2 separate regions of the Homo sapiens genome follow, and region 2 is linked to region 1. Evidence: fine-mapped expression QTL. A gene starts in region 1. The other region holds a variant in brackets. All regions are shown on one strand. Distances are from middle to middle.

Region 1 (2,922 bases):
CTGGCCTTTCGCGAAGAATTATGAAAAACAACACACAGGAGGAGAAATCCAAATTATTACAGGCTCCAAGCGAGTAATAGGATTTCAAAAGAATTAGCAATAAAGGGATTACAGTGAAAGGAAATACAATTTCATGTTTTATTTTAAAACTAGTATTTATCAAATGCAGTGGAGAAATAAACATTTTGTGCAAATCAAAATGACACAAAATATAGCATGGACATACTTTGCCTAGAGTTTCTATGTTTCAAGCCGTATATCGAGTATTATACCAAACACTTTAGTTCAAAGCAATTCATTATGGAACATTATACTAATTGCACGGATGAATAATGCTTTAATTACTCTGAATAGCTGCATTCCAATATTAATTTGTATTTGCCAAAGGAAAAAATGGTGACACCACGTATTTCTACTACTTACTTAAATATGTGATGATTTAAAATAAAGCACTGCTACGTGAGCATGGTTGTATTTGTGTCTCTGTTTTCTTACATCTTCTGGCAAGGCATTTAATCTCTGAGACATGACTTAATTCACAATAACTCATTATTTCACATTTTCTAATCTTTATCACATTCTGAAGAAGTGAGTCATTTTACTATCACAGAAAATATGTACAATGTCAACATTTCTCATTCACAACTGAAACAGCCTTGCCTAGAAAGACTTTAGAAAATTACAACTGTGATAATTTTGTAAATTTGAAATAGCGTATTTCAAACTTAAGCAGTGCACATATAAACTTTTCTTTTGCCAAAATACACAAGCGTTTTTGAAATGTAAAAGGACAAAAGCAAAGACTGCTTTTATTTGTATTCCAATTGCAAATAGATTCATTTACTTTCACTTGAGTTAAAAATCACAATTTTAACATTCCCTTTGCTCACAGCCCTGAAGGAGACATGAAATAGATTGTTTTACAAGCAGGCTAGAGTTAAGTTTACTTGCAGTTTATTCCATCAGCTTTCGTGTCCTTCTATATTTAACCCTGGCCCTTATACCGTGATTCCCTCCAAATTAACCAAATTTCTGTTCAGAAGGTTAATCTCTAATTTGGGGATAAATACAGCCCTTGACTCTCACAGCGATCAATTATTTTCAACACCAGATTTTAAAAATCAACAAAGTCGCAGTGTACTTTACTAGGTCACTCCTCTCAAATTTGTTTTTCTGAGTGATAAGCAGCTTACCTTCCGCTTTCAGATTCTGAGATAAAGTTAAAACGCTACCGAAATCTCCTGCTCCTTTGGGTTGAGGGTCTAATGGAGGCAGAAACTGACAAGCTCATTTTCCTGCCAGAGGCAAATGTCGATTTCAGCCCGGAGGGCCCCGGAGGCCGGCTGGGAGCATCACGTGCTCGGCCCAGCCACTCAGCCCTGCCCAGCCAGCCTGGTCACCTCTTGGCTCCGGAGCCCCGCCGTGCCAGTGTCATTCGCCTCCTACCCCCGGAGCATTCGTGTCCAGAGAAAACCCGGCGTCCCGGAGACAGGACGCCCCACCCTCAGGGGCTGGGCTGCACGGAATTCTGTGACCGGATTTTCCAGCATCAATGGGAGGTGGTGGGTATACAAAATGCCCTGCAGCCTGAAGAGGATGGTAGCACGGTGCAGACAGCCTTGCTCCGTATTCCGGCTTGGCTGAAATGACGAAATACAGGCAACCTTCTTCATCCTGGAGCAGTTTTTTTGCAGTAGGTTAGTTTCACCTTCTCTTTTTTCTAGGTGATTGCTCAATTGTAAAAAACATTGCAGCAAACCGGCAATTCAGACAAGGCCCAGAACTGGGCCAAGCAATTCTCAACAGAATGAGAGAGCTGTCTGAACACCCTCCACCCTCGCCTTTCAAATTGTCATTTTAGCCAAGATTAAAAAACAAAACCAAAAAAAGCAAAAACCAATACCACCCATGGGAATGTAAGTTGAGCAATCTTTCTGGTGGTCTGTTTAGCATTTTTCCTACCAAATGCCTTACAGATACACAGTTTCGCCAATTACTCCGGGCCCTACAGCTGTTGGTATCATGTGCTCCAGCAACTTGATGTCCAAGAATTTGTCCTGGGGTGTGGGGAGTGGGGGTGGGGGGAAGAACGGTGTGCAAACCCCTGACTAGGGAAAGTTTGCTGCAATATTACTTATGATCTCAAAGCACTGGAAACAAGTTAAATCTCCAAAAACAGGGGATGTTTTAAATTATAAGCCATCTGTGCAGTGGAAGAATTAAAACTAATACGGTGGTACACACGGATGGAAAAAGACATGTGCAGCGGATTAAATGGGAAAAAAAATGGAAGCTTCAAAGCATTATGTGCTGAGTGATCCGTCGTTTCTATGTAGGTGTAATATATTTATATCTACACATATACCTTTGCGAACACAGAAAACTATTAGGAAATGAATTCACTAAAGTATCAAACATGGTATCTCACTGGTTAGTGGGATTAAGGGTGTTTTAAATTTTTCTTCTTTTAAGCTTAGAGATATCGTCTAATTTTTCCACAGTGAATATGTATTGCTTTTATAGCAACAAAAAAATTGTTTTCTTAAAAGCACCATATAGACATGATTATGGAATAAACAAACAGTTTTGGCTAATTTTTTAATGCAGATTTCATTACTTGAAGATCCTGAATTCTTAACCACAAAGTCCCGAGGGAACAATCCCTAGCCATCCTAGATTATTCTGCTCATGAAGATCTTTAGGAAAGAAAGTGCCATTCAGGGGCCGTTGTTAATATTTAACCATCTGTATGTCCAGTTTTAATTTCTCTTCCATTTAAACCTACTTCTTTTTACTTTGCTCTGTGTGGAGATAGAAAGCTGGTTATTACCATCCTTCATGAAAAGATTCTTTCAATAGTTACGGAATAATAACCTTTGAGTTTTTTGTTCATTCGAGACAGGGTCTCACCCTGTCTCCCAG
Region 2 (2,922 bases), 520 kb after region 1:
CTTACTAATGAACTACAGCAATAGAGTACCATTTTTGAGGATAATGCCAAATGACTATCTGCATGTATAAACCATACAAGTTATCAAAGGCTACAAAAACACTCAGTCATGTATAAATGACTGAGGTATAAAGCCAAACACAGATACCTCACGCAGAGGAGAAATCCAATGTGTGCTGGATTCAATGAAATTGAAGCTTATGTTCCCAAAGTACTGAACTAATACCCACTCAAAACATTGATAAGAGAAAGATCCCCTCCCTGCTTCCCTCTGACATTTAAAATATGGTTCAATGGCATTTCGAAAAATATTGACTGGTGTAACAGCCACTTTGGAAAAATTCAGTTCCTCAAAATGTTCAACAGAGGTACCATATGACCCACTCCTAAGTAAATGCCACAGAGAAATGAAACATATGTCCACACAAAAAAACTTGTATATGTGTGTTCATGACATCATTTTTAATAATAACCAAAAGGGAAATACAACTCCAATTTCCATCAACTGATGCATGAATCAAATATGTTCTATCCATGGTCTAGCCACACAATGGAATATTCTGACATAAAAAGAAATGACACATGCCACAATGCACACGAACCTTGAAAACATTATACTGAGTGAAAAAGCCAGTCAGAAAATTCAAATTCACTAATACATTACAAATTTTGTTTTTATAAACAGACTACACCTTTCATTAAAATACTTATACATATTTAACTTGTTAAAACAACCTACATATGCATATGTCTGGCTTTAAACAAAAGTACCTCAAACAGTAAGCTGCTTATTTTAATTAAATTTAAGTCTATCATTTTAGTTCTAGTTGGTTCTCTTAAAATAGTAAATCAAAAAGCTTCCTCAAAATTCTATCTTTACACTTTAAAACTGCCCAAGTTCTACAGGTTTGTTTGTTTGTTTTTTTAACTAAAAAGGCATTAGAGAAAGAAACAGAAAATTAAATAACAATTAAGTAAAGTGAAATTAAAATCACACGTACCGAAAGGTAGTAAGATAACTTTTACAGAACTTTTGGGGCATGGGTCTCAGTTTTAGTTTGGGCTAC[G/A]GGCTTCTCAACTCTTGACACCTGTGCACATACAATTGTTTGGTGTGCTAGTCAGGAAACCTTAGCATCTCACCAGATTTACACATAGTAATCTCCATGATTTTCTAATAAGTTTCAAAGTTAACTAGCAAATCAATTTGGAGACAGACACAAATCATATTAAGAAACTGATAAAGCATAGAATTAAGATATAGGAGCCAAATAAAATCTATACTCATGCACCCAATTATAATTAACTTGTCTGCATAATTGTAATTGATAATGTTGACAAGAGAGGTTGATTTTAGAAGGTGTCATCCTCGCCTGGTAAGACCCAGAAAAATTTGTTATAGCTCCTTCAGGATCCAAAATTCTCAGAAGGCAGGCCAGATGCAATGGCTCACACTTGTAATCCCAGCACTTTGGGAAGCCAAGGTGGGCGGATCACTTGAGCTCAGTTCGAGACCAGCCTGGACAACATGGTGAAACCCTGTCTCTACTGAAACTATTTTAAAAATTAGCCAGGTGTGGTGGCAGGTGCCTGTAATCCCAGCTACTTGAGAGGCTGAGGCAGGAGAATCGCTTGAACCTGGGAGGCGGGGGTTGCAGTGAGCCGAGATTGCACCACTGCACTCCAGCCTGGGTGACAGAGCAAAGACTCTGTCTCAAAACAAACAAACAAAAACAAAACAAAACAAAACAAAAACACAACCCAAAATTCTCAGAAGTCAGTAAAAAGGCAAATTTCTCATTTGGAATTGACTATGCAGCTCGCAATGATTTAATGATTGTCTGTCTACTACCTTCAACCTTCAGTAAGGAGAAAGACCGGGCACTTCCCCTGACAACATCATTTAAAACAGAAGGGGTTCCATTTTGGGAAAATGCAGTTCTGCTCCTCAAACGGATTTCAGGTACAAGGGCAAGGATCCAATGGCATGCTGGGCTGCTTACCTTATGGTGACTTCATGTATGGACCTGTGGACCAGCAGGCTTCCCAGCATCCGGTCATAAAAATGGGAAGCCGTCTGCAGGGACCAGCCTAGGGAGAAAGGGAAAGGTTTGAAACAAAAGACTTAAAAATCATTGGGGTGTGTTTACCTCTCAACCATCCCGTTCCTTTAGGTTTTTTCTTCTTCCTAATTAAAACTTAACACATTTTATTGGTTCTTAATTTCTGTCTTAGTCCATAGCACAGATTGTAAGGTTTTGTTTGCAAAGTGAAAGAAAGGAGAAATTAAAAGTGGCCGGTCAGGCATTATGCATGTAGAAGTTCTGAAATAAAAGAGTCTCAAAATAGATAAAATTAATGTTAGCTCAGCTATTGCTACTGCTATTATTTAAAGATAATTTAAAGATTTAAATTAATTTTAAATTACATTAAATTTAAAGATAAATTAAGGTTCCCTTGAAATATCAGTTTTTGGAACAGGGCCTTATTCAGCTGATACATGAACCTGTGCACACCCTCGGGAGAAGACAACACGCTTTAGCTAAACATTCCCCATCGCTTGGGCTAGCTTTCCAATAACTCTACCAGGCACATTTGTGTGCATATATGCATCCTCATGTACTGTGCTCATAAAAACACACAAACGGGTCAGAATCCTTTCTCCTCCGGCTCCTCTAAAATCAAGAAAACCAAAGGCACCCACTAACGTCTCAACTTTTCATTTACTCTTCAGACATTTCTGTTTCACAAGTGTTCCATTTGCACTGATTTATGAGGAAGCCAGGTTTATGGCTCATAAAATGATAATCCTTTATATCAAAAATTGTTTTTATTTCTCAGTCACTATAAACACTAATCAGTAAACCATTTACCTAATGATATTTACCTTATAAAATTTCTTTGGTTGTGAATGATTCCTGCCTCC

The links. PIP is the estimated chance that this variant, and not a neighbour inherited with it, causes the effect.
Region 2: its variant is fine-mapped to the expression of CLCN4 in lymphoblastoid cells (GTEx, PIP 0.94).

What each region holds. Positions count from the first base shown.
Region 1 is chrX:10,155,372-10,158,293 of GRCh38, reverse strand. It overlaps CLCN4 (chloride voltage-gated channel 4), which reads right to left and starts at 1,319. Exons shown (of 13, transcript NM_001830.4): 1 at 1,194-1,319; 2 at 1-5.
Region 2 is chrX:9,639,438-9,642,359 of GRCh38, reverse strand. TBL1X (transducin beta like 1 X-linked) reads right to left here. Exons shown (of 18, transcript NM_005647.4): 3 at 2,000-2,087. Among named protein-coding and RNA genes, the nearest start is that of GPR143, 120 kb to the left of the region's middle. The variant G/A (reference allele first, on the strand shown) is at 1,067.